7 linked regions of the Homo sapiens genome follow. The protein of the gene in region 7 interacts with the protein of the main gene of each other region in a pairwise test. Each region holds a gene or a part of one and is shown on either strand. Other genes may lie near its edges. The genes, in order: FSBP, EDARADD, FAM118B, ZBTB26, HNRNPC, MBD1 and SUMO1.

What was found.
Region 1: the proteins of SUMO1 (region 7) and FSBP interact in binary tests that used the Homo sapiens proteins (3 or more experiments, as listed by UniProt).
Region 2: the proteins of SUMO1 (region 7) and EDARADD interact in binary tests that used the Homo sapiens proteins (3 or more experiments, as listed by UniProt).
Region 3: the proteins of SUMO1 (region 7) and FAM118B interact in binary tests that used the Homo sapiens proteins (3 or more experiments, as listed by UniProt).
Region 4: the proteins of SUMO1 (region 7) and ZBTB26 interact in binary tests that used the Homo sapiens proteins (3 or more experiments, as listed by UniProt).
Region 5: the proteins of SUMO1 (region 7) and HNRNPC interact in binary tests that used the Homo sapiens proteins (3 or more experiments, as listed by UniProt).
Region 6: the proteins of SUMO1 (region 7) and MBD1 interact in binary tests that used the Homo sapiens proteins (3 or more experiments, as listed by UniProt).

Annotation. Positions count from the first base shown.
Region 1 is NC_000008.11:94,426,713-94,431,084, reverse strand, and holds the end of FSBP (fibrinogen silencer-binding protein), read left to right. Parts: 3' UTR 1-3,369; downstream 3,370-4,372. UniProt on the Homo sapiens protein: Transcriptional repressor that down-regulates the expression of the fibrinogen gamma chain. Represses transcription of GSK3B gene promoter via its interaction with APBA1.
Region 2 is NC_000001.11:236,407,150-236,411,656, forward strand, and holds part of EDARADD (ectodysplasin-A receptor-associated adapter protein), read left to right. Parts: intron 1-2,066; coding exon 2,067-2,125; intron 2,126-4,507. UniProt on the Homo sapiens protein: Adapter protein that interacts with EDAR DEATH domain and couples the receptor to EDA signaling pathway during morphogenesis of ectodermal organs. Mediates the activation of NF-kappa-B.
Region 3 is NC_000011.10:126,238,629-126,243,135, reverse strand, and holds part of FAM118B (protein FAM118B), read right to left. Parts: intron 2,345-4,507; coding exon 2,092-2,344; intron 1-2,091. UniProt on the Homo sapiens protein: May play a role in Cajal bodies formation.
Region 4 is NC_000009.12:122,924,472-122,928,978, reverse strand, and holds part of ZBTB26 (zinc finger and BTB domain-containing protein 26), read left to right. Parts: intron 1-4,507. UniProt on the Homo sapiens protein: May be involved in transcriptional regulation.
Region 5 is NC_000014.9:21,234,411-21,238,917, forward strand, and holds part of HNRNPC (heterogeneous nuclear ribonucleoproteins C1/C2), read right to left. Parts: intron 2,051-4,507; exon of another isoform or gene 1,963-2,050; intron 1-1,962. UniProt on the Homo sapiens protein: Binds pre-mRNA and nucleates the assembly of 40S hnRNP particles. Interacts with poly-U tracts in the 3'-UTR or 5'-UTR of mRNA and modulates the stability and the level of translation of bound mRNA molecules. Single HNRNPC tetramers bind 230-240 nucleotides.
Region 6 is NC_000018.10:50,271,524-50,276,030, forward strand, and holds part of MBD1 (methyl-CpG-binding domain protein 1), read right to left. Parts: intron 4,459-4,507; coding exon 4,312-4,458; intron 4,206-4,311; coding exon 4,077-4,205; intron 3,922-4,076; coding exon of another isoform or gene 3,847-3,921; intron 3,723-3,846; coding exon 3,606-3,722; intron 3,523-3,605; coding exon 3,454-3,522; intron 2,831-3,453; coding exon 2,663-2,830; intron 2,341-2,662; coding exon 2,041-2,340; intron 1,949-2,040; coding exon 1,811-1,948; intron 1,433-1,810; coding exon 1,301-1,432; intron 1,216-1,300; coding exon 1,154-1,215; intron 18-1,153; coding exon 1-17. UniProt on the Homo sapiens protein: Transcriptional repressor that binds CpG islands in promoters where the DNA is methylated at position 5 of cytosine within CpG dinucleotides. Binding is abolished by the presence of 7-mG that is produced by DNA damage by methylmethanesulfonate (MMS).
Region 7 is NC_000002.12:202,207,167-202,211,673, forward strand, and holds part of SUMO1 (small ubiquitin-related modifier 1 isoform a precursor), read right to left. Parts: intron 3,641-4,507; coding exon 3,569-3,640; intron 837-3,568; coding exon of another isoform or gene 702-836; intron 156-701; coding exon 87-155; 3' UTR 1-86. UniProt on the Homo sapiens protein: Ubiquitin-like protein that can be covalently attached to proteins as a monomer or a lysine-linked polymer.

The sequences.
Region 1 (4,372 bases), on a different chromosome or scaffold from region 7:
TTGCTGGGGTTTTGTTGAGAAGGGATTTTTAAGCCAAGTTGTAGAATGGGGTGGGTGTAATTTCAGCAGTGAAGGGGACCATGGGTGTTTGAAGTCAAGAGTGAGACGCTGGAAAAAAGACAAAAGAATGGGAAAAAGTGGATTGAGTATATAAGCACAAATGCAGTGCTAAGCCATTGATTTTAAGTGAATGTAGAGAGAGTCAATTTGGGCTGTAGTATCCTGGACTAGGAAGGACATCTCCCTGGACTAGGTAGGGTAGCTGCTGTTTAGCTCCAGCAGAATTTTCACATGCGGGGATAAACCAGAAATCTGCATTTTTTAATGAGGAATCTTCCAATTTTAAAATGTTTGCAAATAACACAAAATGCTTTTAAAACATTATACAGACAACATGTGAGTGGGCCTCACTGAGCCATTGGGCTTCCACTTTGTGGCCTTTGGAGTAGACCAATGGTTTTCCAAGTATGGGTCCTGACCAGCAGCATCAGCATCACTTGAGAACTTGTTAGAAATGTAAATCCATTTCCAAGTGAATTAGAAACCCTGGGGGTGTCAGCAATCTCTTTTAATAAACCCTTTAGCGATTCTGATGCATGCTAAAGTTTGAGAACCAGTGAAACAGAGTATTTTGGAACCTCGCTTGGTGCCTAAATCATACTAGTCTCAAAATTTTTGTCGAAGAGTAGTTGAAAGTGAACTGAGGGATATAAATTTGGATGATGGTTGATACCAGATTATGAATTACATTAAATACTTTTTTTTTTTTTTTTTGAGATGGAGTCTTGCTTTGTCACCTAGGTTGGAGTGCAGTGGTGCGATGTTGGCTCACTGCAATCTCCGTTTCCTGGGTTCAAGCGATTCTCCTGCTTCAGCTTCCCAAGTAGCTGGGACTACAGGCGCACCACCATGCCTGGCTAATTTTTTGTGTTTTTAGTAGAGACGGGGTTTCACTGTGTTAGCCAGGATGGTCTTGATCTCCTGACCTCGTGATCTGCCCGCCTCGGCCTCCCAAAGTGCTGGGATTACAGGCTTGAGCCACCGTGCCCAGCCTAAATACTATTTTTAATGAGTCAGACTTAACGTACAATGAGAAGCCATTGAATGCTTTGAATTAGAGGGCTAATTTGATTATAGTTGTGATTTAGGAGGAGTGGCATTTAGGGACAGGCATTGTATTGGAAGAACTTAAATCAGAAATTTAAGTTATGGCTATAGAAATAGAAAAAAATGAACTCAAGGTACTATTTTAGCATGTTGACTACTTAATTTCATTGGTTGGATTAAAAAGAGGGTGTTTTATAGCTGGTAGAGTTAACTTCTTTAATTATAAAGATGTCCTGAATATATAACTTGATATATCCTTTTGACAATGTTACCTTTTCTCTTTAATCTGTGCTATGACTTTTCTTTGAGTCTAATGAATCTTGTAATTCTTAATTTGAGGTAATGTTTCCCAGTATAATTCTAGTAAACACATCTTGGCAGTAGTAAGCTTTATTTTTTGAAATTATTGAAAGCACATATATGAGATGTAATTCACTTTACAGTTTCAGCATGCTACTAAGAATTGATAATGAATGTTCAATTTAAATGTTGGCTTTTACAGCAAATCAGAGTTTTCCCAAGTGTGTTCTGTGGAACATTAATTCTGTGAGATGTTTCTAGAAAAGAGATCTGTGTTAAAAAAAAGTGCAGTATACATCTTTTTTATTTTTGGTGGTTAGGTTCTAAAATAATTGTGGAAGGTAAAAATTATGTATATACAAAATAGCCCTTGAAAATTCCTTTGCTGCCCATAAAATAGCATAAACATAGTCTGCTACAATCATATTTTTCTGCAGCATTGTTTAAGATTGCTTTTTCTTTAGTGTGTTAGGTGACACAATTCATTAGCATTTAGGGGCTGTATACAATAAGAAACCTATTTTTACATATTTTTAAACACCAGAATCACACTCTTTGAGTTTACTGCAGCAACTTTTCCAAGTCAATCTTGTTTTTCTCCAAGTCAGTCTTGTTTACTTTTAATTTGCAAAAGTTTAAATGCATATAATTCTCCTCATTGTCTACCTCCCCTTGTATAACCATGATTAACATAGTATAGTTTATGAGAATTCCTGTATAAAGAAAATTATTTATTTGACCATAGAATCCTTTTCCGAGGCTGTTTATTATCTTACAGAGTATCTTAGGGTAATTTGGAACCAAACCTTTTTTTTTCTTCTTTTTTGTATTGAGACTTTTTTGAGTTAGGGGACTACTTACCAACTAACATTAGCAGTTTTTGTTGAGGACAAGTTTCATTAAGGGGAATATATAGGGGAAAGTTTGCTAGTACAATGGAATGTACACTTGGCTTTCTATCTGCAGGTTTCACATCTGCAGATTGAACTACTGTGGATTGAAAATATTCAGGCAGAAAAATAAATAACAGTACAACAATAAAAAGTAATACGAAATTTAAAAAGACGGTATAACTGAGGTAGGAGTTGGGCTAATCCCCAGTTTTGGGGCTCACTTGTCCTGTATCCTAACAACTATTTACATAGTATTTACATTATATTAGCCATTGTAAGTAATCTAGAGATGATTTAAAGTATATGGAAGGATGTGTGTAAATTGTATGTGAATACAAACATTTTATATAAGGGACTTGAGTATCTGTGGATCTTGATGGGGTAGGGGGTGTCCTGAAACCAATCCCCCTTGGATACTGAGGGATGACTATACACTTAAGCCACCAGACATCTTGCATATCATAGACAATTGTTTGGGGTCCATGAGCTTTAATTACAAAATGTAATGCTGGGAGAACATAGAGAAGAGTGATTTTGTTTTTTAAATGTAGACTTGATTCTGTAGAAATATACTACATTTGATAAATATACTAAGTATATAGATTATTTCATCCAATATATTAGTAATTTAGATAGTGGATAGCCACTTTCCTATCTTTCTCTTATCCATATGAATGTAATGGATATGTTGTTACAACTTATGATTTTCTAAACTAGCTGTGATTTATAATGACATCCTGAGAAAAGTCAGTGAAACTCATTTCTAACGAATACCAGATTTCTTAAAATAGTCAAGTATTTTTCTTTTGTGTATGATGAGATATTAACTTGGTGTTATTTCATTTTTTTTTTTAAGGAGTCATTCTACCCTGTTCTATCTTTACTTATGTGAAAATGTTTAAACTATGAGTTTTTTTCATGTGCCTTCTTTTGGAGTAATGTCAACTTTTAAATACACATGTTTAAATAACTTAGAGTGTAATAAATTGTGTTTAATATATACTGTAGATAATGATGGTTAAATGCTTTGTTAACACATGTTCTTTTAAATACAAGATACTACTTTGTACTGATTTGTGTACTTTTTTTGTGTGCCGTTAAGACAAATAATTCAGTACTGTAGAGGTAAAATTTTTTGATGAGGTATAATTGAAATACATTTATTTAGATGATTATGTTATAATAGATGGCCAATGTACCATATCTAAATATCACATTTCATTTCTTTTTTCAAATGTTAAGAGCCACAGCTTCTCAAAATCAAATATTTGATGGTGAATTTGATTGTAAACACTTAAAAGTAATTAGATGAAATATGGTTGCATACTTAAACAAGAGTAAGTTCTTAGAATATGCAATCTAATTAAACATTAACAGTCAAGCAAAATCTTTGTATACGATTTTGAGAAATTGTTCAATATATTTTTATAAATCTTTTATATTGATTAAAGCTAGTAGTTATAATTTGAACATATTATTTATTTTTAGTTTCCAATTGCTTTGTAATAGTGGAAAGCAAAATAAATGAGTAAATAAAAATAAAAATAAAAATATCGCTCATATCAGTCCTGACAACTTAAACTAAAAGGATATATCATTATAATTCCACTTTGCTAGCAGGTCTTTTTTGTTTTAAAATTTATGTGTGAATTCACCTCTGTTACAAAGTTTTTTTTCCCCTAACATTAAGAAACCTTTCAAACATACAGAAAAAGTGAAAAGATAGTTATAGTAAGTATCCATATATCTACCACATAGATTCTGCAATTAATGTTTTGCTATACTTGGCTTCATCACCTATTTATCCATCAATTCTTTTTTTTAAAGGAAAAATGTTACTTCGAAACAAGTTGTAGAGTTAGAATAATTTACCCTTAAGTACTTCAGCATGAGTATTACTAGAGTTCACTATTTATTTGTGCATGTGTGTTTTTTAGGTAAGATTTGCATACAGTGAAATGCACAAATTTAAAATATACCATTTGGTGAGTTTTGATCTACAACTGTGTAGCTCAAACCTCTGTCAAGAATTAGAACAATATCACCTCAGAAAGTCCTCTCTTGCCTGCTTC
Region 2 (4,507 bases), on a different chromosome or scaffold from region 7:
CATTGCTGTCTTATGGTCCTGGCCTGAGAAGTCCCTTGAGACCCAGCAGCCCTCTGTTTCTGTGCTGGACACAGGGCACAGGTCTCTTTGCTGGTGCTGGGCCGCGGTCCCCGGGGGTTAGGCTGCTCTGTGCTGTCTCTGATGCAGTCTTGCCACCTTCATGCTCTGCAGATGTCTGTATCCTGCTCCATGGGAGGCAATGGCAAAGGCTCTCTCCATTCGTCCCCATTTCTCTTCAGTGACTGGAGGCTGCATAAAACAAAGAGATGTTGCCTTCTCGAAACTTCTTTGGGCATTATCAACACCTGCAGGGCAAAGAAACTGTGGAAAGTTCAGACACATTCTCAGCTGGGAAACACCTAGGAAGAACACACACAAATTATTATCTTGACAAATTGTCCTGCTGTGCTTATTTGGATCCCCAAAGGCATTCCCAGGACCTAATTCCTAGTCTGCAATATGTACTTAATGAGGATTTGGATCAAAAGTGAATGCTGACTCTTGGCGGACCCACGACTGCCACTTAGGGTACTGCAGGTCGTTCACTGCACAAATCTGGAGGATCCCACGCAAAAAGATTTGATTATTTACTGAGACAGCTCTCTGGCAGATGTCTTATAAAGCATTTTGGAGATGGGAAACTTTTCTAATTTGTACTAATTAGGTCCTGACTGAGGTCTGTGCCTTTTTCCGTATTTCCCCTTTAAATTCCTTCAATGCATCAAGTGATAAAGTATCAGAAACAAAATATTGAGAAATCAAGATTATTTTTGATAAAAAACTATGGTTTTTTCTTTATTAGTCCACATAAACAACATTCAGAAGATTAAGAAAAATGAGTTGCAGCAAAATAGGAAATCAGGAAAGAAGTAGATTCAGAATGGAGTCATTCCTGCCGAAGGTAGTGTCAAATTCAGTAGGCAAGAGAGTCATTAATGTGATGCCTGCATAGTTTGTGGTTGTTTGTAACTCTGGGTATTTGAAGATATTTATAGGTAACCTGTTCCAAAATATGGTGGGGTTTTTTATGTAGTTACTTTTTATATTTTTAATTAATTAATTTATTTTTTTGAGATGGAGTTTTGCTCTGTCACCCAGGCTGGAGGGCAGTGGTGTGATCTCAGCTCACTGCAACCTCCACCTCCCAGGTTCAAGCTATTCTTCTGCCTCAGCCTCCTGAGTAGCTGGGACTACAGGTGTGCACCACTATGCGAGGCTAATTTTTGTATTTTTAGTAGAGATGGGGTTTCCCTATGTTGGACCAGGCTGATCTTGAACTCCTGACCTCAGGTGATCTGCCCGGCTTGGCCTCCCAAAGTGCTGGGATTACAGGCGTGAGCCACTGCGTCTGGCCTATAGTTTCTTTTTATTAATCTATTTCTTGATGCAATCTGAATCTGTTCCTCTTTATTTTGTCTCAACTAATAATTGGAAGTAAGACTTTCAGGCCAGGTGCGGTGTCTCATGCCTGTAATCCCAGTGCTTTGGGAGGCTGAGGTGGGAGGATCGCTTGAGGCCGGAAGCTCAAGGTTGTAGTGAGCTATGATTGTGCCACTGAGTGTACTCCAGCCTGGGCTACAGAGCAAACCCTATTTCTTTTTTCTTTCTTTCTTTCTTTTTTTGAGATGGAGTCTCACTCTGTCTCCCAGGCTGGAGTGCAGTGGCACTGTGTTGGCTCACTGCAACCTCCGACTCCTGGGCTCAAGCGATTCTCCTCCCTCAGCCTCCTGGGTAGCTGGGATTACAGGCGCCCACCTAATTTTTATTTTTATTTTATTTTATTTTTTAGTAGAGACAGGGTTTTACCATGTTGACCAGGCTGGTCTCGAACTCCTGACCTCAAGTGATCCACCCGCCTTGGCCTTCCAAAGTGCTGGGATTACAGCATGAGCTACCTCACCCAGCCAATCCTATTTCTTAAAAAAAAAAAAAAAAAAAGGAGTAAGGTTTTCTTCAGCCTAAGTAAAATTACTTGCCTCTGTATAGAGACAGTTATCAAAGGACTCATTTGTGGTTTTAAATTAAAGCAAACCCGCTCTATTTGTTTGTTTTTGTTCTTTTTACAGATCATATGGTAAAGGAACCAGTGGAAGACACAGACCCTAGCACTTTATCCTTTAATATGGTAGGTGACAAATTTTACACTAATGGTGATAATTATTGTTTTGCTTTTTTTCTTTGTTATTTCTTTACGTTTTTATTACTCAGTATTTACATGTGCATCAGAAACCCCAAAGTAAGATTTTTCTAAGATAACTGCTTTATCTTGGTATTCTACGTGATAATAATAAACTTTGGGTTTCTCCAGGCTAAAAATGGCGTTAGATTCTTTTCTTCTTTTGCTCATGTTGGAGGTGATATTACATTATGTGAGGGCTTTACCCACTTCCCTGGTTTTTTTTTATTTCATTTTTCATTTTTATTTTTTTTTAGACGGAGTCTTGCTCTCTCACCCAGGCTGGAGTGCAGTGGCGCGATCTCAGCTCACTGCAATCTCTGCCTCCCAGGTTCAAGCGATTCTCCTGCCTCAGCCTCCCAAGTAGCTGGGACCACAGGCATGTGCCACCATGCCTGGCTAATTTTTTTTTTTTTTTGGTAGAGTGGGGGTTTCACCATGTTGGCCAGGCTGGTCTTGAACTCCTAACCTCAGGTGATCTGCCACCCTCGGCCTCCCAAAGTGCTGGGATTACAGATGTGAGCCACCGTACCTGGCCTACTTGCCTGTTTTTAATACTACTGGTCTGGTAATGGAGCAGCCTGGGATGCCAGATGGACACACGCTATTGGATTTACCTCAGTTACAGCGTTTAGTTCTAGCAGCTGCCTTCTGAGCCACATCCTCTCCCCACCCTCCCGTAACCATTCTGAGGCTATTGCTTTAAGGGTATCCAAAGATTTCACATATATTGGTTTTTTAAAATTCATTTTATGGTTTTATTATTATTATCATTTTAATTTCAGATTCCATGGGTACGTATGCAGCTTTGTTACGTGGATGCATAGCATAATGGTTAGGTTTGGGCTTCTCATAAATCCATCACCCACATAGTGAACGCTGTACCTAATAGGTAATTTTTCAACCCTGAGCCCTCCTCCCACCCTCCCCCCTTTTGGAGTCCCTAGTGTCTGTTATTTCCATCTTTATGTCCATGGGTACCCATTCTTTAGCTCCCACTTATAAGTGAGAACATGCAGTATTTGATTTTCTGTTTCTGAGTTATTTCACTTGGGATGATGGCTTCCAGCTGCATCCATGTGGCTGCAAAGGAGAGAATTGTGTTCTTTTTTATGGCTGCCATCATTATTTTTCAACCTCCCAAGATCCTCCCAACCATCCCTTGAGATGGTGGGGCACGTACCCCCATCCTACAGATGCAGAAAGGACAGTTAATGGAAGTGTGCCGCCACCTAGACCGGAGCCCTGTGCTCCTGCCCAGCACTGCTTCTTGCTGAGGGCCAAAGCGGTGCTCTCTGTCAGGCAGCGTGTGTGATGGGCATATTGTGTAGGACACATTCCTTCTGTTCCAGATCCTCAGAGGATGGGATCTACCAACTCATGAAAAGTTTTGGTTAACTGATTTAGTTACAGCGACACAGAATACACTTCATGTAATTCAACTAAATGTCTTTAAATCTTAGGTGTCTTGCGGACCTGAGGTGTTTGTTTTCCTGTCCTTTAATTACCCCTGGCTTGGTAAATTGTAGACAGCGTAGGGGGTCAAGCTTTGATACCCACTGGAAATTCCTATGAAAAATTCTCAGTCTCTTCACTCTGATCAAAATGGAACGAAGAACAACCCTGTGGCCATGGCTTATATGTCTCTGGAGTAGCTTGTTACTAAAGCCTTTGGTTTCTATAAAGTGTTATTCAGTTTGCCTTCTTTCCCTTCCCACTGCCCCCACCTGTGACTCTCCAGTTCTCCCTGGTATCCTGCTTACTTCCTGATACCAGGTTTTCTTTCCCTCCCTTGGAGCTATGTCCTTATGCTCACCTTGGGGCTCAGCTACCTCTAATTACTTCTCCATGCTGGGGACAAAGTGATCTTTCCAAAGTGTCCCTCTTACTAGTTTCTTAGGGCTGTCGCAACAGAATACCACAGACTGGGCAGCTTTCACAATAGAAATGTATTTGCTCCTGGTTCTGGAGGCTGGAAGCTTGAAATCAAGGTGTCCTCAGGGCCATTCTCCCTCTGAGACCCATAGGGAAGAATCTTTCCTTGTCTCTTCTAGCTTGTAGTGGTTGCCAGCCATCGTGGAAACTCCTCAGCTTATAGAGGCATCACTCCGTTCTCTCACTCGTTAGCACATGACCATCTTCTCCCAGGGTGTTTGTGTCTCGTCTCTTCTTCTCCTTCTCCCTCTCCTTCTTCTTTCTTCTTCTTCTTCCTCTTCTTCTTCTTTTTTTTTTTTGAGATGGGGTTTCACTCTTGTCGCCCAGCTGGAGTGCAATATGCAATGGCGTGATCTCGGCTCACTGCAACCTCTGCCTCCCAGGTTCAAGTGATTC
Region 3 (4,507 bases), on a different chromosome or scaffold from region 7:
TTATATGAATGGAATCATACAATATATGTCCTTTTGTGTCTGGCTTCTTTTACTTAATGTTTTCAAGGTTCATCCATGTTGTTGTATGGGACGAGCACTTCATTCCTTTTAATGGCCAATTAACATTGCATGGACAGACATTTTGTTTCTCCATTCATGAACTAGACATTTGAGTTGTTTCCACTATTTTGGCTATTATGAATAACGTTGCTATGAACATGAGTGTACAGTTGCTGCATGAATATGCTTTCCATTCGCTTAGGTATATACTTATGAGTGCAGTTGCTGGTTCATAGAATCACTGTTCAACTTTTTGAGGAACTGCCAATCTGTTTTCCAAAGCAACTGCATCACTTTACATTCCCACAAAGGTTCCAATTTCTCCACATCCTTAATAACACTTATTATTGTCTTCTTGATTCTAGTCATGCCAGCGGGTGTGAAATGGCACCTTGTTGTGGTTTTGATTTGTATTTTCCTAATGACTAATGACGCTGAACATCTTTTCGTATGCACTTATTGGCCGTTTGTGTATCTTCTTTGGAGAAATGTCTATTCAACTACATCGTTATTTTAAAATTGAATTATTAGCCTTTATTAAGTTACAGTAGTTCTTTATAGATTCTGGATATTATACGCCTATGAGATATGTGATTTGCTAACATTTTCTCATTCTGGAAGCTGTCTTTTCACTTTTTTTTTTCTTTTGGTAGAGACAGGGTCTCACTATGTTGTCCAGGCTGGTCTTGAACTCATGCCCTCAAGCAGTTCTCCTGCCTTGGCCTCCCAAAGTTCTGGGATTATAGGCATGAGCCACCATCCCCGGCTCACTTTCTTGACAGTGTCCTTTCAGCCTAACAGTTTTTAACTTTGGAGAAGTCCAGTTTATCTATATTTTTTTTTACTTTAGTTTTTTGCATTTTTGGTGTCATGTCTAAAAAACCACTGCCAGATCCAGTCATGAAATTTTAAATCTGTATTTTCTTCTAAGAGTTTTACAGTTTTAGGTATCATATTTAGGTCTTTGATCCATTTTTAATTTTTATAAAGTGTATGGAGATTCCATGAACTCTTTAAAACCCCATTAATTCCTTTTTTTTTTTTTTTTTTTGAGACGGAGTCTTCCTCTGTCGCCCAGGCTGGAGTGCAGTGGCGCGACCGCAACTCAGTGCAACCTCCACCTCCCGGGTTCAAGCCATTCTCCTGCCTCAGCCTCCTGAGCAGCTGGGATTACAGGTGCCCACCACGCCTGGCCCTAGAAGCCTGATTTTTAAGATTTTAAAACAGGCTGGGTGCAGTGGCTCATGCCTATAATCCCAGCACTTTGTGAGGCTGAGGTGGGCAGATCACTTGAGGTCAGAAGTTCGAGACCAGCTTGACCAACATGGCAAAACCCTGTCTCTACTAAAAATACAAAAATTAGCTGGGCATGGTGGCACATGCCTGTAATCCCACCTACTCAGGAGGCTGAGACAGGAGAATCGCTTGAACCCAGGAGGCGGAGGCTGCCATGAGGCGAGATCGAACCACTGAACTTCAGCCTGGGTGACAAGAAGAAGATTCCATCAAAAAATAAATAAATAAATAAATAAATTTTCAGACAAAGCAAGACAGGGAGTCCTTTTATCCAACTCAGTTTGGTAAAATAAGGTGCAATTCCTTCTAAATATTTTGACTTATTACCTCTAAAAAGAACACTAAAAACTGGTTTTGTTTCATGTATAAAATGATAAAATTATCTCCAATCTTTGTGGGATTCCATACAAGGCATGGATGCCACAGAACACAGCTTTTATAGTAGTGATGCAGGAAAAAAATAAATTCAAAACACAGTGGTAATTTGTACATATAAAGTCCTCAACATCATTTCTCTCTCATAGACACACAGTGAAATGGGGTTAAGACAACTGTCCTGAGTAGGGTCCATAAACAGACATTGCGCAGAAGAGTCAAATGTTATGGAAACCTACAAGCTGTAAATGAATATCCCTGTTACATTTGGCATGCTAGTTTTGACAGCCAAATCATGCTAGTTGTGATAGTTAAATTTTAGGAAATTCCAAATACTGTGGCACATACTAGGGTACTCACAGGAGAGAGTTTCTGGATAAGGTCATGGGCAACATGGACCAGGTTCTTGTCTTCATGGAGACATTTCTGAAACTTTTTGCTCTCCTCATCTTCTAAAAGATCAAAATCAATGGCAGCATCCAGTAAGGCCTGAATTAACCCCTTCCAGGATTTGAGGGCTGGAACTTGGGGCGCAACTGCAGCACTAATGCCTGTTCCAATCACTAGCACAAGTTCTCGAGGCTTCTTAGTTTTTAAGCTTGGAAGCAGCTTCCTATAAAAGCAAAACAAATGAGAGGATTGGAATATCCAATAGATATGAGGCACACAGAAAGACTGTCTGACTCAGGTTACAGTTTTTAGCTAACTTTTATAGTTGCAAAGAAGATGAACAGCAGTTTTTGACACCTTTCCAAAGCAGTTTAAAGAAAACAACCAGAATATTGTGTCAGTGCTTGCTGAAAAACAAGTCATAAACCTATTTCAGGAATCCCAAAACCAATCTTAAAATCAGTTTTCCCTTCCTAGTCCTCTCAACCTAAGAAATTCCACTAATATTAGGAAAAGATCCAAATAGACTATAGCTCAGCTGACTTCTGCCAACTAAATTATATTTTAAACCAGTATTAAATTTCAAAAGAAGACGTTTGATTTGTACTCTAGAAAAAGAGAAAAGAACCCCAGGACAAATTAAGTTCCTATTATTGAGAAATGTAAAACACTAGGGGAAAGGCAATACAAAATTTAATTCTGAATTTTGTAAACATTAACCTCAGGCAAAAAAAAAAAAGAAAAAAAAAGTGGCCAATAGAATTCTGAAAACACAGGGGCCCTACATACCTAAATAAAGACATTAACTAATCAAAGGACATGACAAAAAGTGAAAAACATTCCTTTCTTACCATGATAAGCAGAGACAGACTTCTCTGTTCTGAGGCCCATATGTGAGACAGCATGGGTGCTAATTTTTGTTTTTGTTCCCCTCTCTTTCATTCTGGAGACTATCCCTGCTTGAAATATGTTCCTTCACATTAATTTTTGCTGATGGCATGTTCCCCTCCCCTGAAAATGGCTTCTCCCCAACCTTTTTGTCTAAATAATAAAATGGAGAGGATCAGCATTTTGGCATAACTCAAGAAAGGAATAGCACTTTCAAGCCTTGGGAAACCTGGTTTTGGGGACACAGCCTCTAAAACTGCTTTCCCTAACCCGAGCTTCTGCATTCAGTCATTCAACAAATATGAAAAACCGAGGCCAGGAGCAGTGGCTCACGCCTGTAATCCCAGCACTTTGGGGGGCCAAGGTGGGCTGATTACTTGAGGTCAGGAGTTCAAGACCAGCCTGGCCAACATGGTGAAACTCTGTGTCTACTAAAAATACAAAAATTAGCTGGGTCTGGTGGCGCACACCTGTAGTCCCAGCTACTAGGGAGGCTGAGGCAGGAAAGGAAAACCTGTATGTACCAGACACTACGGGAGTCATGTATCCATGAACAAAATGGAGTCCCTGATCTTGAAAGATCAGTCTACTAGAAAAGACATTAATAATAGATGTTAGAAGCAAATGATGAAAAATGAGTTTCAGTTCAGAGCAATCAAGATAGTGAAGCATACACAAATCCACATAAACAAATATACACACACATAGAAAATTTCTAGGATTCACAAGATGTATAAATAGTGGTTAAATGGGGATAGCAGAGAATAAGGACTTTTTACTTTTCATTTTATACTGTTGTACTGTATTTTTTTATATAACATACAGATTTGAACTATAATTCTTCCTAATTAAGACTTCCAATTTGGCTAAGTGCAGTGGTTCATGCCTGTAATCTCAGCACTTTAGGAGGCTGAGCTTGAGCCCAGGAGTTTGAGACAAGCCTAGGCAACTTAGTGAGACCCCATCTCTGCCAAACAAAGAAAGAACGAAAAAGAAAATTAGGCACGTCTGTAGTCCCAGCTACCTGGGAGGCTAAGTTCACGGGAGGATCACGTGAGCCCAGGAGGCTGAGGTTGCAGTGAGCTGTGTTTGTGCCACTGCACTCCAGCCTGGGTGACAGAACAAGACCTTGTCTCGAAAAAAAAAAAAAAAAAGACTTCCACTTAAAAATAAAACATTTAACAATTGTGTTTTATTACTGGTTCTTTGTAAACCACCAAATAATAGTTACTTTTTTTTTTTAGCGGGTATATATACCTAAAAAGTAGGCTAGGTAAAGATGACAGCAGACAACAGAGGTCAAAGGGCAACAACATTTTACCAATTGTAATGCAAAGGCCGATTCCCTTGGTAGAATTTTGGGAATGTTCATGTACATCTAAAGGTAGAGGGGCTGGTGGGGCTAAAATAGGAGAATCAGTTACAAGCCTTTAACAGTTACAACTTTCAGCAGGCTAGAGGTTTCCCTTCTGCAGAGGTTGACCAGAGGACTATATCT
Region 4 (4,507 bases), on a different chromosome or scaffold from region 7:
CTCTCAAATCTGTTTCCCCTCTCCATCCATATTATTGTTGTCTCTCTTCAGGCCCATGCCATTCTGTCTTGATCTGTTTAGAGTAATCACATACTAAAATGCTTCCTTGTACTTTTCTCCAAGCCATTCTCCATAAGAAATTTTTTTGGCTTATTGAAGTTTAGACAGTGCATGAGTGCAGGCATCATGCATTTCAAGTGATAGGGAAATAGCCTAGAACAGGTATTTTTGAGTACCTTGAATTGAGATTTAGTTTGGTTAAGTTTGGCCATGGGGATTGGGATTTAGGGATTGTTAACATAGGGAGGTAATAAAACATTGAGAAACAGAAGACAGGCTTTTTGAAAAAAATAGCAAAAAATTGGAGACTTAGCTTTGAAAGAGATACTTACCCTTATACAATTTAGTGAAGCCTCAAAGAACAGACCAGCAAAACAATGGTGGAAAACAGTTCAATAGTTAAGTAATTTGCCCACTTCCACATAACAGTTCAAAAAAAAGAACTAGGCCGGGCGTGGTGTCTCACGCCTGTAATCCCAGCACTTTGGGAGGTGGGAGGCTGAGGCATGAGAATCACTTGAACCTGGGAGGCTGAGGTTGCGGTGAGCCGAGATCACACCACTGCACTCCAGCCTGGGCAACAGAGCGAGACTTGGTCTCAAAAAATGAAAAAAAATCAAAAGAAGAATTAAATCTATATTCATCAACATAAATTGCTTTCAAAAACAATGAGTGAAAAAAGTAAGTTGCAAAACAATATGTATAGTTTATGTATAAGAAACTTAATTACGTTATACTTTTGTGGCTAGACATATAGAAGTATTGTTTTTAAAATGCCAGGAGGGGCCGGGCACAGCGGTTCATGCCTATAATCCCAGCACATTGGGAGGCCGAGGCGGATGGATCACTTGAGGTCAGGAGTTCAAGAACAGCCTGGCCAACATGGTGAAACCCCATCTCTACTAAAAATGCAAAAATTATCCGGGCTTGGTGGTGCATGCCTGTAATCCTAGCTACTCAGGAGGCTGAGGCAGGAGAATTGCTTGAACTCGGAGGTGGAGGTTGCAGTGAGCCAAGATTGCACCACTGCACTCAAGCCTGGGCAACAGAGCAAGACTCCGTTTCAAAAAATAATAAATAAATATATAAATAAATAAACAAAATGCAAGGAGGGAGAGTCAGGAAGGATCAAACTTAAACTGAATACTGAGTGGTAGGCAGTTGAGAAGGGGAATTACATCTAAAATCTTCAAAAATTTTTCAAGAAGAATACATTCTGTATATATTACTTAAAAGTTGAAACAAAAGCTTGATAACTTGGAGAGTATCGTGTCATGAAAGTTACCTAAAAGAAGAACAAGATTAAGGTTTATAGAGAGAAAGGCTGTAGTATAATACAGCCTCTTTAGAAAAAGAACATACCATGTCAATGAGGGACAAAGATTTCCAAGTAGTTTTGAGTGGTAAGTTGAAAGATAAGGGCACTTTTATGAGACAGGTGAGGAAGCAAACTGATACCTAGCTTAAGAATTTATTATACAGATAGAAAAATTTTACTTGCCAGTAGTTATTAGAAGCATTTGAGAAAAGAAACTATTTTCTCACTGCCTGTAGTATAGCAATTTACATTGTCCCACCTGGAATATTCAGTAATTAGTCATTTTTTACTATCCTCATTTGAACAAAGGGAAAATTTCAAATTAGTTATAATTGTGGAAGGATTGTATAAATATAAATGAAGAGGAAGTGAGAATATTCCCATTACATTGATGTTTGAGAAATATCATTCAAAACTTGCTAATAGAAACTCAACAGTATTCAGATTTAATCTCAGTAACTGAGGCAATAGATAATAAAGACCTGAACTATGGCAATGATGTAAGAATGGAGGAGTGAGGAGTTGGTGATCATTCTGAGGAAAGAATCAACAAAATATGATGACTGTGTCTCTGATCTACCTGATCAGTTCTTTACTTTCCTTCAGTTACAAGAAGCTTGACTATAACCTAGAATTATCTGAGTGATTTTTATGATTATTTTGAGTAATTACTGCTATACTTAGAAGTTACCTACAGTTGGGGATTGTGAAATCAAATATATTCATAATTTTTATTGTCTGCTTTATTTGCAAATGGCATTAAGTTTCAGTCCACAAAGATAAATACACAAAAGATGGAAAATAATATAAAGTAAAATAGATGAGAAAGGTATAATAAGGATAAAGGCATAATATGCAATCAGGAATATGACTAATACATATATGCTTGCCATTTAAGTCTTCTAATTTCATGCAAATTTGGCTTGAAGTTATAACTTGTTTTTAAACATAAACCTTTTTTTGAAGCATAACAAAAACAAAAATATACAAGTCATAAGTGTGCAGCTCAATGAATTTTCTTGGCCTGTGTTTGTGATACTGAATGTAAGGAAGGAAATCTGAAGAGTTACACAATTTTTTTTTTTTTTTTTTTTGAGACGGAGTCTCGCTCTGTCGCCCAGGCTGGAGTGCAGTGGCACAATCTCAGCTCACTGCAAGCTCCACCTCCCGGGTTCACGCCATTCTCCTGCCTCAGCCTCCCGAGTAGCTAGGACTACAGGTGCCCGCCACCACTCCTGGCTAATTTTTTTTTTTGTAGTTTTAGTAGACACGGGGTTTCACCGTGGTCTCGATCTCCTGACCTCATGATCTGCCCACCTCGGCCTCCCAAAGTGCTGGGATTACAGGTGTGAGCCACCGCACCTAGCCGAGTTACACAATTATTATCCTTGAGATAAAACTGTACCAGCCAGGTGCAGTGGCTCACACCTGTAATCCCAACACTTTGGGAGGCTGAGGCAGACAGATTACCTGAGGTCAGGAGTTCAAGACCAGCCTGGCCAACATGGTGAAACTCCATCTCTACTAAAAATCCAAAAATTAGGCCTGGCGCAGTGGCTCATGCCTGTAATCCCACCACTTTGGGAGGCCGAAGCAGGTGAATCACCCGGGTCGGGAGTTCGAGACCAGCCTGACCAACATGAAGAAACCCCGTCTCTACTAAAAATACAAAATTAGCCAGGCGTGGTGGCGCCTGCCTGTAATCCCAGCTACTGGGGAGGCTGAGGCAGGAGAATCACTTGAATCCGGGAGGTGGAGGTTGCGGCAAGCCCATTGCACTTCAGCCTGGGTGACAAGAGTGAAACTCTGTCTCCAAAAAAAAAAAAAAAAAAAAATTAGCTGGGCATGGTGGCAGGCACCTGTAATCCCAGCTACTCAGGAGGCTGAGGCAGGAGAATCACTTGAACCCAGGAGGCAGAGGTTGCAGCAAGCCGAGATCACGCCATTGCACTCCAGCCTGGGCAACAAGAGTGAAACTACATCTCAAAACAAGAAAAAAAAAATTGTACCTAGATTAGTTGTTTCATACCTGGATTTTGGCATCATGCAGTGTAAACCACCAGTTCCAGATCTAACACTTAACACTTTCAACCTCCGTTGGGGTTTACAAGTTATTTATGTTTTCTAAGCTTAGTTTCGTCATATACAAAATGTGGGATAATGGTAATACTTACCTGTAGAAATTTTCACGATTAAATGGGTCAATTTATTTATTTATTTATTTATTTATTGTGATAGGATCTGGCTCTTTCACCCAGACGAGTGCAGTGGCATGATCATGGCTCACTGCAACGTCTGCCTCGTGGGCTCAAGCCATCCTCCCATTCAGCCTCCCAAGAAGCTGGGACTACAGGCGCATGACACCACGCCCAGCTAATTTTTGTATTTTTTGTAGAGACGGGGTTTCACCGTGTTGGCCAGGCTGATCTCAAAGTCCTGAGCTCAAGCAGTGTGCCCACTTCAGCCTCCCAAAGTGCTGGAATACAGGCATGAGCCACTGTGCTCGGCCTAAATGGGTCAATTTAGGTATAACATCTATACCTGAAATGTAGCAAGGAAGATTAGGTATCATTTCTCTTATTTTTAAATAAAATTAAGATGGTTCATAAGAAACTTTTTTTAACTATCAAAAAAAATTTTTTTTAAGTGTTTAAAACAGGTTCATGCCTGTAATCCTAGCACTTTGGGAGGCCTTGTGGGAAGACTGCTTGAACCCAGGAGTTTTAGGTTACAGCGAGATTTGATTGCGCCACTACACTCCAGCCTAGGCAACACAGCGAGACCCTGCCTCTACAAAAAATAAAAACATTAGCTAGGTGTGGTGGTGTGCACCTGTAGTCCTGGCTACTCAGGAGGCTGAGGCAGGACGATTGTTTGAGCCTTGGTGCCAAGGCAGCAGTGAGCTATGATTACGCCACTGCATTCTAGCCTGGGTGACAGATGACAGAGTGAGACCTTGTCTCAAAAAAAAAAAAAAAAAAGAAAGTTGAAATTTGGTTTTATATTGCCAAAACTATTTTGGTAACAAACCCTAGAAAGAAAGCTTTCCCTAGGCACTCAAAAGAAGATATCATAATGAAGAGCATCTGTACCATAGCCTAGTAATAATTTCATGGGGGAACATTAAGA
Region 5 (4,507 bases), on a different chromosome or scaffold from region 7:
CTCTAGAAAGTCAACTTCTTCCTCTTCCATTCTATTTCAGCAGCACTAAACTCTAAATTCTCAGGAAAAAAAAATTCTCCCTGGCAGATCATTGGCAATATAATTTCCTTGGACATAATTCCAAGTGGCCCTCCTCTAAGTACTCAAGCAAATTAGATTTGCCTAAATTCTCTGACACCAGTTTCTGCTGTTTTTCACATTACAGGTCATGCTAACTATTCCCTGCCATCAATAATCTTGATTCACGTTGCTTTTATTGAGTTTCACCGGTTCTGTATATATACACACAGCATAGCAAACGTCAAATTCTGTCCCAAGCCATTCATTAGCTAGATTAATATGGATAGCTTACACTTACCCATTAAGTATAATTTTCTTCAAAAGGCAATAAATAGAATCAATTCATTTACACTGGAAACACCTATTTCCAGATACTTCAATTAATCTGCAGTATGCTTTAGATACATAAGTATCAATACCATCTTTTTACAGACTGCAATGACTCGAAGGCTACTTTTTATATAACCTAAAATATAGGACATTTAATAATATCGGATGGTGATGATGATAAAACTAGCCAGTGGAACACGGCATGAATCAAATTAAAGATTGGGGAATTAAAGAAAAATACACAACTTTCCACGCATTATTTAAAACCAAAAATTATCTGTCTTTATGTATGTGATGGAGGCTCAATCCTACCATAACCATATGCAGATTCACAATACCATCTCAGGTCCCGTAAAGCGAAAATGTTTTATTTCATTCTTTTAGCATTTTGTTTCCTGCCTCTTCCCACTCCAACCCCCAATCTTGAACAAGATTTAAAAACATTCTTAAGATTGATTTCCCCTTCATCCCTTTGAAAGGTACTGATAAATCTCAAAAGATTCCAGTATTTGTTATCCTTCCAATCCTCAAGTGAATCATGACAAACTAGTTCTCACGGATGATGTAAAAAAGTCTAATGTATACATATATGTACATAAAAACAGGTAGTTTAACACCATTTCATATATACATGACTCCTATCATTCTGATGCTTAATACAGTCATTTAACAGGCAGTACTGATTTAAAAGCTCAAACAAAACTTCACTTCCTTCCAAATCTTTCTGAAATTCAAAAGTCTGTCTTTGTTACTTTCTAAAGTATATCTTTACAAAAACTTCTTAATATTTTAACACTAAGCAATAAAAATTAACAAACAGTAGCCACTGAAATCCACCAACAGCCTTTCAGCTATTAAGTATGCCAGAAAGTCTGAGGACACTAAAAAGAGGAATTAAAACAAAAATCTGCATTGAGGCCTAACTGGTTTCAGATACTACTGCTGGTTATTAAGATTTCCCATTATTACAAGTGGAGGTATAATCTGGTTTTAAGCAACTATTTTTCACAAATAGGTTTATCAATAGAAAATATAATCTCCATAGGTTTAATGAGAAGAAATTACCAGGGGTGAGGGGCTCCGTAAGCCAACACAGAATACTGACCATAAGGGAAAAAACCCATCAAACCACAGTCCAATGTTCCAAATGGACATTTGCAGAAAAATACAGATGTGATTGAAAGGGGTACCCTTTGGAATAAGACAGAAATGGATTTAAATGACCATTTTCTCAATTTTCACAAGTCTGAGTACATAGCTAGTATTATTTTCACAAGTCTGAGTACATAGCTAGTACTAATCAAGATGCAAGGAATTCATACCCCACGGCATTTTTCATGTGTATCAGGCCTTAATTCTCTCAAAGATCCACAAAGGAAAAACTCAGTAGAAAAGCATCCAGGCATACAAGGATGCTAGCAATGGTTGTTATGAGTTTAAGGATATGATTTCTCATTTTCTTTATGGTCTGGTTATTAAATTTGCTACAAAAATCATCAACTACTTATTTTTAAAATACAAAAATCCCAACTTCCAAAGTTTGCCTAAAATTAATAAAATACCCATACTTACTATGAGGACTTAAATTCAAGATGGAGGCAACAGTAAAGACAGACGTACTCACAATACGGATTAATTCCACTCTTAGTAACGTGTCCTCCTAAGGAATGAACAGTCACTACAAATTCATTCATTTTGGGGATCAAATATTTACTAACCATGTGCTGAGTACCACATTTCAGGGAAAATCCAGGGCACAAATAGTAACAAAGACTGTCCTGAGAGCTTCCTTAAATTCCAGTGGTATTGCTACTTCAAATTTTATGGAAGAGGTACATTTCCTGAAGTTTTAGAAATAACCAAATGATGTCAAGTCACACTTCATTCTACTTCAAAATTTTAAAGTATCATACAGGTGAAATTTCCATAAAGGGAGGACGATACTGTAACACAAAGAAACTACTGGAAAAGAACTGGGATTCTTGGAAGGGGTCAGCAAGAGCAGAGTAGTTTTTGAATCTCTGACTCCCAAAATAAGACTCAAGATGGCAAAATCACTATCCTACAGACAGCATTTAAATCAAAATTCCAAAATGCAAGGCAGTAAAGGCAAGCCAGCATATATGGTTTCACTGACTGTGGGAGAAATAAAAGGTAAGCAACTTGGAGAATAATAGACTTAGAAATACAAGAATACCAAAATAACCAGCAGTTATTTATTGAAAAGCAACAGGAACGAAATTTTAGAAAAGCAGTTAAAACTTAGAAGTTTCACCTGCTCCAATAGTGGGTGAGCACAAGGGACTTCAATAAAAATGTGTGAAGGTGCAAGAGCAGTTGCATCCCTGTAAAGTCTCATAAGTAAACAAACCCTATGTGGTTGATTCCACTGCCAATCCCCCTTCCTCTCACCAAAAGGTAACAACCATTATGACTTTACTAGCACTTTCTCACTTTTAAAATAATTCTAATGCCTAAATGTATAACTATAGACATTCTAGTCTTCCCAGAAAAATAAACGTGATGCATTTGAAGCATTTTTGTAGGTAAGTTCCGCTTCTATTGCATTAGGTTAAAATTTATCTGTTTAAGAATCCACAGTATTAACTTGTAGTTTCCCAGTCTGTATTTTCCAGGATTGATACTCTCAGAACAATTCCACATATTCTTCTGTAACTCTTGAAAGCAGCAGCTGGGACCAAGGCTTACTCAGCTTCATCTGCAATATTTTGTCAAGACTACCTCGTCCTACAAGTGGCAATACCTTTTTGTGGTGTTATTGATGCTTAAACAATACCATTTCTCTCTAGGTAGTATGGTGTGGTTTCTCGAGCACCACTTTTAACATGTTACGCAGACTGTTGTTAGAAATCCTAAGAACAGTCCCTCAGTTCTTTCATGTAACAGGTTGCCAGCATCCTTTTATAGTAGTACAATAGTTTAGATAAGTAAAACAAACTCCTTGATCACATTTTTTTTTTAATTTTTTTGAGTTGGAGTTTCACTCGTTGCCAAGGATGGAGTGCAATGGAGCAATCTTGGCTCACTGCAACCTACGCCTCCCTGTTCCAAGTGATTCTCCTGCCTCAGCCTCCCCAGTAGCTGGGATTACAGGCATGCGCCACCAGGCCCGGCTAATTTTGTATTTTTAGCAAAGACCAGGTTTCTCCATGTTGGTCAGGGTGATCTTGAACTTCTGACCTCAGGTGATCCGCCTGCCTCGGCCTCCCAAAGTGCTGGGATTACAGGTGAAAGCCACTGCACTCGGCCCTGATCCCATTTTCTTGCCTTGTTACTCCCTTTACATCTGGAAGGTGTAAAAACCACTTGTAGAATGAATAGGTCTACTTTTGCTTTTTGCCTCATACAGATCTAAATTACTTGGTCATATTCTATATGAATTTTTATAACCGAGTTCTAACAACTAACAACCCAATAGTAATAAATGTCCAGCAATAATAGTCTTTTAAAAATACAACTTCAAGTGATGTGCAAATTATAATTTGAGTCAAAAAAATAGTATCTGAAAACGTACAATACATAGGAGACATAAATGAACTACATAAAAATCATTTAAGAACGGACAGTACAGAAACACATCAAAATATCTTAAAATGTTCTGTGGGTACTCTGCTTGTGATTAATCTTTACAATCATTTTCACAGTTTCTCTGTATTTCCCAAATTCACTACAATGTACATACAAGCTTGGGATTTCTGTAGGAAAAACTCATTTAAGCCAAACAAATATTCCTTAAAACAGAAAATCCATTTGGTAGAAATTTTAAAAGGTTAATCACATTAGTAATAATAGTCCAAGTCTTAATGCACCTGTATATACTCAAATATTTTGAGGTCAATGCCCCTCATCATCATATTTCCCCTCTTCTAGTTGAAGGGGTCTAGAATTTTTCTTTTTTTAATGCAAGCTAACCCAGGGATCCTACTCTATCACCATTTACTAGTATGTAATAGTCGAATAATGCTGTTAGATAATAAAATGGCACTAATTTACATGAACTAGATTTAACATTAAGAAATCTGGGGCTGGGTGCAGTGGCTCACACCTGTAATCCCAGCTCTTTGGGAGACTGAGGCAGGCAGTTCACATCAGGTCA
Region 6 (4,507 bases), on a different chromosome or scaffold from region 7:
TTTTAAGGTCTTTGGACCTAGGGAAAAGGGAGCAGGTCTGTATGTTGAATGAGGTTTGCTATGTGCGCAATGGAGCATTACAAAACCATTTCCTACTATTCTGTGTCCTCCATCCACTTCCCCTTAATTATCCTTTATCTTTTTTTATATCTTCTAAAAACTACCATTATAGACAGCTTGTACATAGTCAGATTATAAGCTCCCTGAAGGTAGGTATCCTGTGTCTCCTGAAGGGTAAGCTTTGCAGGGCTCATTGTCCTCAATGCTGTGCACCCAACAGGAACTCAATCAATACTTCTGTAATTGGCCAAGTATAGATGAAAGGGTTTCTAGCCTGGTGGGCTGGTTTGTAGGAGCAAAGGAATCCAAGTGCTTAGGCCAATAGTTTACATCGCCAGTGTCTGGGGCTCTATGCAGGGTCTGTCAATATTCTGCAGGAGCCAGCACTCCTCTGTCCTCCCAACCACCCTAGTCCTTACAGGCATCTACCCTTTGTTCTATGCCAGGACTACAGGGACAGTTCTGCAAGGCATCTGAAGTTAATAACCTCAATAGGCTCAGGAAAGGCTCAAGAGATCCAGCCCAAGCCCTTCCACAGAGGCCGCTCCAGGAAGTGCAGGGCAACCAGAGATCACACAACTACGTGTGAACCCAGCTCACAAAGCCAGCTCGGAACCCAGATCTCCTGCCCATACCACTGCCCAGGCAAGCCCAGCACCATTTCTCTGGTACACATTGCTCAATGTCAGGCAACAGCCCACCCAGAGGTCTCCTGGAGACTCTAAAGGCCTTCAAGACCCAAATGATTATTCTCTGAATAAGAATTTATATATTAAAGCTGACCCCTATAGAAATTCCTTAGGAAAATAGGGACCAGACTCCCTATCTTTTTCTTTCAAATCTCATGATAGAGTACCAAGTCTTTCCCCTACCCCCAAAGGAGAGTCCTAACCTGGAATGCTATTGGGCTGGATCTCAGGAGAAATCTCTAGGGTCCTACACACACGCCCCTCATTAATTGTGACCAGCATAGTGGGTATGGGCCTTTACCTCCCACCACACCATGCCAAACTGCCGGCTATACTTTCAAAACTCAGGGCCCACATCTGGCCAACACCCACTCCTTCCCCACCCCTCACTGTGTGGGGCACACCTTGGCAACCAGACTGCTGTATCTCGGAAGCGGGTTCCACCCAGGCTGAAAATCTCCGTGATCTAGAGAAGAATTAACACCATAGGTCAATGTGGTTGTTGGGGCTACAGCAGGGTCAGGGCAGGGTGGGGCATCCCCAGCACTGACCACGGGTGTGCCAGCCCCTCCTGCCTCTTCCTCTGGGGCCAATTTGGAGGCAGAATCATCCTTGTTCTCCTCCTTGTCCTCCTCTGGGTCAGGTGGCTCTTGCTTCACAGAAGGCAGGCCTGGGTCTACTGCCTGGGAGAAGTAGGAAACAGGCAACCATTAGAAGGGCAGAGTTCACCTGAGGAAAGTCTCTATCAGCCAACCCCTCACTGTGCTGACAAATCCTACTTCCATCACATTTCAACACAGAAAGTCCATCTCTCTGCCTACAAAGCTTTCCCATTCCCATTCCTCACTGACCTCCGTTTTTCTGTTAGCTGGATAGCAAAGCGGGCAAAGCTAGTTGCCTGTGGGAGGTAGGGTGTCTGTTAGACAGGCGGGGTAATTCTGCAGAAACGTCGCAATCAGCACATCTATTGCTCTGCTCAAGAGAACCATCATGGCTCATCATCACTCTGCTTACAGACCACTCCGCTACGGCACCAACAGAACATCCATCACTGCCCCCACCTTGCTAGGGCAGCCAGGCACCAATACGGGAGAAGTCAGGACAGCTGTGCCTGGTGTCCACTCGTCCTGGGTATCCGCCTTCTCTTGCTTCACCTGGGGTAAGGCCACAACCCAACTCAGGCCAGAGCACTGGGCCTCCTGCGTGAGGGAGGATTGCAGCAGACTTGGTCTCAGCTCCCTGGCATGCAGCTGGGTGAGGCTGGGAAGGCAGGACAGGGTGGGGCCCTCACCTGCAACAGGGCTTCTGTGGAAGCTGCAACAGGGCCCGGCACCTGCACAGGACTGCTTGCGCCTTCCCGTAAAAACACAAGGTCAGTGCCAGGCGGGGGCAGCACAAAGCCACCACCTGCTTCCTGCTTCGTTGGAGCCTGGGTATGGTCTGGTTGGGCTGTGCGTGTAGCCAAGGTGGGCTTCAAGGTAGGGCCAAGATGGTGCCGTCGGGCAGAGCTGGGCCTCTTTCGACGACGGTAAGGTGGGGGCGATCCTGCCCCATCCTCAGACTCTGACCAGACACTGGGCAGCAGCCGCTTCTATGGGGAAAGATAGGGTGCTATGGCTACCTGGTGTCCTGACCAATCACATCCACCCTGCCCGGCTCCACATGCCTGCTAATCTCCCATCAGTCCCAGCACGGAATCTGCTTACATATGAGCCCTTCATCACTGAGCCTGCTAGTCTCCTATTAGCAACACCAATGCCACCTAGACTCATTAAGCCAAGAACAATGTCTGTTAATCCTCAACCAAAGCTACTGCCCCACCCACCCACCTACCAAGCCTGCCCACCACTTCCAGGCACTGGGGCGCCTGGCCCAACCTATCCCGTCCACCTGACCCTTCCTGCCCCACCCACCATGGCAAACTGCAGGCATTGGCGCCAACGACACTTCTGGCGCTTCTGGTTGCTGCCCCCGAATTTGGGCTTGTCGCAGCAGAAGTCGCAGCGGCCACAGTCCATCCGCCGTAGGCAGGCTGCACAGGCCCCGCACTTGCGGTTCTGCCGGCGGTTCGTGTAGGGCTGCTGGGGTGGGGGGAATGGGTGGTGCTGTCAACTAGGACTAGGAGAGGCCATCCTCAACGCCTATTCCAGTGCTGGTCCTGGTGCTCCTCTAGCCCCATAAGACGGAGCTACTTGCATACTAGTCTCAGCCTCCTGACTCCCCACTAGTCACTCCTCAGCATTCGCTAGTTCAACATTGGCCACTATCACTGTGCCAGCTGGCCCTCGATACCATTAGGACTGTGGCTGCTCCACTACAGTATCCACTGCTGTATTTCCTAGGCCACCACTAGCTACCAAGAAAATGTCTCTGACCCCCATTTCCAGCAACATTTTGATAACTCTCTATTAGCTCCCATCACTGTGCCTACTCTGTCGCTCATCCTAGGTGAACCCCAGTCACTATGCTAGCTGCTCCTCTGTCAATCCCCACATCAGCTACCAGAGTGTTGGTATATGTGACATGAAGCACTCTCATGCACCTGCTGACCCCGTATTAGTCCTCCATTATCTACTCATCCCATCCTAGGACCCATTATTGTGCCTTGCTGTTCCCCAATAGGCTCATTCCAGCATCTGCTTCTTTGAAGTTAACCAAGCGTCCTGAGATTCTAGGCTTATCCAGGTAGGGTGGGGCCACTCACTAGCTCGTCCTCGTCTACACAGTAATAGATGAACTCGGCAGGTGGCGAGGGGGCCAGGGCTCTGGGGTGCTGTAGAGGCAAATGGGGTGGGGTCAGGGCAGGTACTGGGTAAGGTCAGGGTTGTGCCTTCCCTCCACCCACTGGGGCCTCACCGGCTCTGTGGGCTCTGGGGACTGTGATGGGGGTGGTGGAGGCAGTGGCTGGGCTCCGGGGCGCCGCCTGGCAGCCATCTTGGAGTCACAGCCTCCCTTGCGGCGGGCATGTTTACCCTGGGAAAGATCAGAAAGGGTGGTTTCAGCTTGGTGGCACCAGGCAGACACAGAAACTCCCCACACCCTAAGTGCAGAAAGCATGCATGGGACAGGCAGACAGAGGGTGGCGTGAGGCACTCACAGTTGGGGGAGCCACAGCCAGGGGAGTGCGTCGCTGACATCTCTGATGACGGCGACGCAGGCGGTGAGCAAGGTGCTGGCAGACAGAGGCAGGTAGGCGGGGCCAGAAAGGCGAGCATAGGGTTAGGCAGAAAAGAAAGACATGAGGTAGGCAAGGCCAGGTTGAAAGGAAGCAGAGGCAGCGACGATTTTAACAGCAGAATGAGCTCTGCTCCCTCCAGCCCAACTCACCCGTAGGCAACGTCGCTGGACACATTTCCACTGGCGCCTGAGACCAGGGCGGGGAGGGCGAAGGCAGATGGGGCAATGGCCACAATCCTCTTGGGTCTGACAGCCCCGGCATACTCCACACCCTCGGCTCTGTTGGCGGGGGGCAGGTGGGAGCAGAGGCATGAAGCATGGGGCCAAGCCCATGGGGGCCAGGGGCCGAGGTGAGCCTTGGGCTCTTTCCACTTGCCCAACTCACCCTTTCCACAATCCGGAGGCAGCGTCTCCGTTCACACTTGCAGAACAGCCCCGATGCCACATCATGGGGCAGCTGCAGGAGGCAGGTGGAGCAGGCCCCACAGTCTTCTGTTACCTGGCAGGCTGCACACTCCCCACAGCCCACACGCTGCCAGGAATGGTAGGGACGAGATCACGGGCCTGCTCCAGAAGCACTG
Region 7 (4,507 bases):
ATTCCGTTTTGAACACCACATTACAAAAGAACTATTTTTAAAAATAAAAAAGGATTGAGGGAAAAGAAAAAAAATAAAAAGAATATCTAAACTGTTGAATGACCCCCCGTTTGTTCCTGATAAACTTCAATCACATCTTCTTCCTCCATTCCCAGCTGTAAGAGGAAAGAAAAATGTTAGACTATAAAAGCAGTTTTTAAATTGACTACAATTACGTGGCCACTAATTTAAAAGTGCAAAGAGATCCAAATGTGACCCATACTTACACTCCTCTAATATTAAGAATCCTGTGTTCTTTAATCTAAAGAATATAGAGGTGTCTTTCCTTCTGATTCTGTCTATTTAGTTATGCATCTTACTTTCCTGAGTCAATTTCACTTCCCAGTTTATTCGCTATATAAAACTGAAGTGTTTTTGACAGCCATGTTAAAGAACTTTTAAATCTAATGAAACATGTATTTAATAGTTTAAGTGATAGTTTAATAGGATATATCTAATTTGGTGTTTGTTTGTTTTTGTTTTTTGAGACAGGGTCTCATTATATTGCCCAGGCTGGAGTACAGTGGCACAATCTCAGCTCACTGCAACCTCAGCCTCCTGGGCTCAACCTCAGCTCACTGCAACCTCAGCATCCTGGGCTCAACCAATCCTCCCAGCTCAGCCTCCCAAGTAGCTAGCACTACAAGCGTGCGCTACCATACCTGGCTACTTTTTCTATTTTTAGTAGAGATGAGGTTTCGCCATGTTGCCCAGGCTGGTCTCAACTCCTGACCTGCAGTGATCCAGCCCGCCTCAGCCTCCCAAAGTGCTAGGATTGCAGGCGTGGGCCACTGTGCCTGACCAAAAAGTTTTAAATTTTATAGGTAACATTTTTGTGCAGAATTTTAAATATGAAAATAAAGTATGTTAAGAAATCTAAACATAACACATGTGAATTTAGGATTTTAAAGTGATCAGAATGGCTCTAGTAGTGTTAAGCTATCTTGGTTGTGGAACATATTTGAATATTTAAATAATTATTAAACATGCTTTTAGGCCAGGTGCAGTGGGTCACACCTGTAATCTCAGCACTTTAGGAGGCTGGGGGGGCGGCAGATCACCTGAGGTCGGGAGTTCGAGACCAGCCTGACCAACATGGTGAAACCCCGTCTCTACTAAAAATACAAAATTAGCCAGGCGTGGTGGTGCATGCCTGTAATCCCAGCTACTCAGGAGGCTGAGGCAGGAGAATCGCTTGAACCCGGGAGGCAGAGGTTGCGGTGAGCCAAGATTGTGCCATTGCACTCCAGCCTGGGCAACAAGAGCAAAACTCCATCTCAAAAAAAAAAAAAAAAAGATGCTTTTAAAACAATTTTAATTGCCCATATAGCATGGTAAATACTGCAAGGAATAAAATTCCAAGTGTTATTAGAAACCTTCAAAACAGGAAGACAGCATGAGTCCTTGAGCTATAAAGAATATAAAGCTACAAACTTCAAGAAGTACATTAACAGAGACAAGTGAACAACAGCACAGGAGGGTCACTCCCTAAAGACCTACTGTCTCCCACTGCACCAACATTCCTCTGAAAAAATAATCTCTTAATTACAAGGAATGTGTAAGGCATGTGTCAGTAAAATGTATTAGATATCTACTGTATGGTCCCAGAGATTATGCCAAGTTAAAGGAAAGTAAAAGATGAGTTTGGAACTTCTTACTGTGCCAGAAAGTAAGGAAGTGTTCAAGAAGGTGGTGGACACTAAACCTAAGGGGAATATTTGATGAGAAAGGGGATATTCGCATAGTTTCAAAGTGTGTCCCCTCAAATTACTTAATTGTAACAGGAAAAACAGTTAACTACAAAGTAAAAAAAAAAAAAAAAAAAAAGAGACAACACTTAAACTAAGTGATCAAAGCCTGGGCACATAGGGAGACTCCATCTCTACAAAAAATTTAAAAGCAGAGCATGGTGGCACATGCCTGTAATCCCAGCTATTCAGGAGGCTGATAGTGATAGGATTGCTAGAGCCCAGGCATTTGTGGCTGCAGTGAGCTATGACTGCATTCTAGTAGTCATACTAGAAAAACATAATATTTTTTTTTTTTTGAGACAGGGGACTCCTCGCTCTGTTATCCAGGCTCGTCTCGAACTTTTGGGCTCACTCAAGTGATCCTCCCGCTTCAGCCTCCCAAGCAGCTAGGACTATAGGCGTGCACCACCAATCCCAGCTATCAAATGCTGCACAATGTTATTTTATTTTATTTACTTTATTTTTGAGACAGGTTCTCACTCTGTCACCTAGGCTGGAGCACAGTGACATGACCAGGGCTCACTGCAGCCTCGACCTCCTGGGCTCAAGTGATCCTTCCACCTCAGCCCCCCAAGTAGCTGGGACTACAAACATGCACCACTAAGCCTAGTTAATTCTTTTTTTCTTTTTTTTTGAGACAGAGTCTCGCTCTGTTGCCCAGGCTGGAGTGCAGTGGCGTAATCTCGGCTCACTGCAACCTCTGCCTCCCGGGTTCAAGCGATTCTTCTGCCTCAGACTCCCGAGTAGCTGGGACTACAGGCACATGCCACCACGCCCGGCTAATTTTTGTATTTTTAGTAGAGACGGGGTTTCACCATACTGGCCAGGCTGGTCTCGAACTCCTGACCTCGTGATCCGCCCACCTCGGCCTCCCAAAGTGCTGGGATTACAGGCATAAGCCACTGCACCTGGCCAAATTTTTTTATTTTTAGTAGAGACGGGTTTTCGTCATGTTGCCCAGGCTGGTCTTGAACTCCAGGACTCAAGCAATCCACCCACTTTGGCCTCCCAAAGTGCTAGGATTACAAGTATGAGCCACCGTGCCTGGCCCACATGCTGTGCAATTTTAATTGGTGAATCTAAGGAATAGTTATACAGGAGAGTATTACACTATTCTCACAATTCAGTAAGTTTGAAATATTTTCAAAATAAAAAGTTAATAACCCTATATTGTTCCCACTATCAGAAATATCAGTAATGTTACTCTGTGTATGAAGGGAATCTATGTATATAGATACACACACACATACACACACACACACACTACTTTGAGATATCTCTATAGAGGGAAGATGGGTGGAATATAAAAGCAAAGCAAACTGCTCATAGAATAAAAAAATCAAATGAAGACAGAGAAGCATAAAAAAATAGGGTAAAACAAGATGACAGAGCCAAATATATTAATATACACTATGCTTCTGTATTAACATTCTCAAAATAGGTCAAAAATGAAAATCCAGCCATTAATGTTACCATCACCATGAAAGTATACCAGAAATTTACCAAATTTGAGGAACATTTGTCTATCTTCAAAAAGGATGTAGCATGTGACCTATGACAATTTCAGTACTCATTTTGTTTCTACCACCCTTTTTATTGGCACTTTTAAAGGCACTATAGGGGAAGTTCAACCCAAAACATTATTTCTTCTCTCCAACAAATGATATGCCATTTAAATCAGAGAATATTCAAGAAAAGGGCAGTTTTAACACCAGTGAACCAAACTGCTCAAAGGAGAATTTAAATTTTTTCTTGACTCAGGAGAAAAGTATACTCACTTCTTTTGGAGTATGATTATCAGCAATTCTCTGACCCTCAAAGAGAAACCTGAGTGAATTCATTGGAACACCCTAAAAAGGTAAAGATAATAATAATGCATACATACACACACAAATATTAGAAAACATAATGGTAACTTTGATGCACAAAAAGCAAGCATGAAAGCCTTAGAACACTACATAGAAAATAAAATTAGACAAGCTAATTCAATCATAAATACTATATACTGTACTGAGTAGCAACTATTTGCAAGGCCCTCCCTGTACCAATTCTTTACATACATAATCATAAGTGTTAAACACAACAACCCTGGAAGGTAGGTATTACCACCTTATCTTCATGTTACAGCTAGGGAACCTAAGGCTTGGAGCTAGCCAAGAATTTAAGCCCAAACCTGTTTCTAAGCCTATGCTCTTGACCACTACTCGATTCACTTTGCCCTAAATCTGTAAGCTAGAATAAAAGATCAGATCAGAAACTGGACGTGCACCCTCACTAGCTTCCAACTATACTGGCGAAATTGGTTTTAAACAGATTACATCATAAAATTTGGTAAAGCACAAATGGCTAGCTAGCTAATCTACCATAAACCTGGATGGCATAGATAGCGCAATATTACAAAATATATTAGTATACATTTTTCTAATCACTCTTCAACAAAAATAGCTGAAAGGGGAGACGGCTCACTTGAGGTCAGGAGTTTGAGACCAGCCTGGCCAACATTATCATAAAATCTGGTAAAGCGCAAATGGCTAGCTAGCTCATCTACCATAAACCTGGATGGCACAGATAGCACCATAAATATTACAAAATATATTAGTATACATTTTTCTAATCACTCTTCAACAAAAACAGCTGAAAGGGGAGAGACGGCTCACTTGAGGTCAGGAGTTTGAGACCAGCCTGGCCAACATAATGAAACTCCATCTCTACTAAAA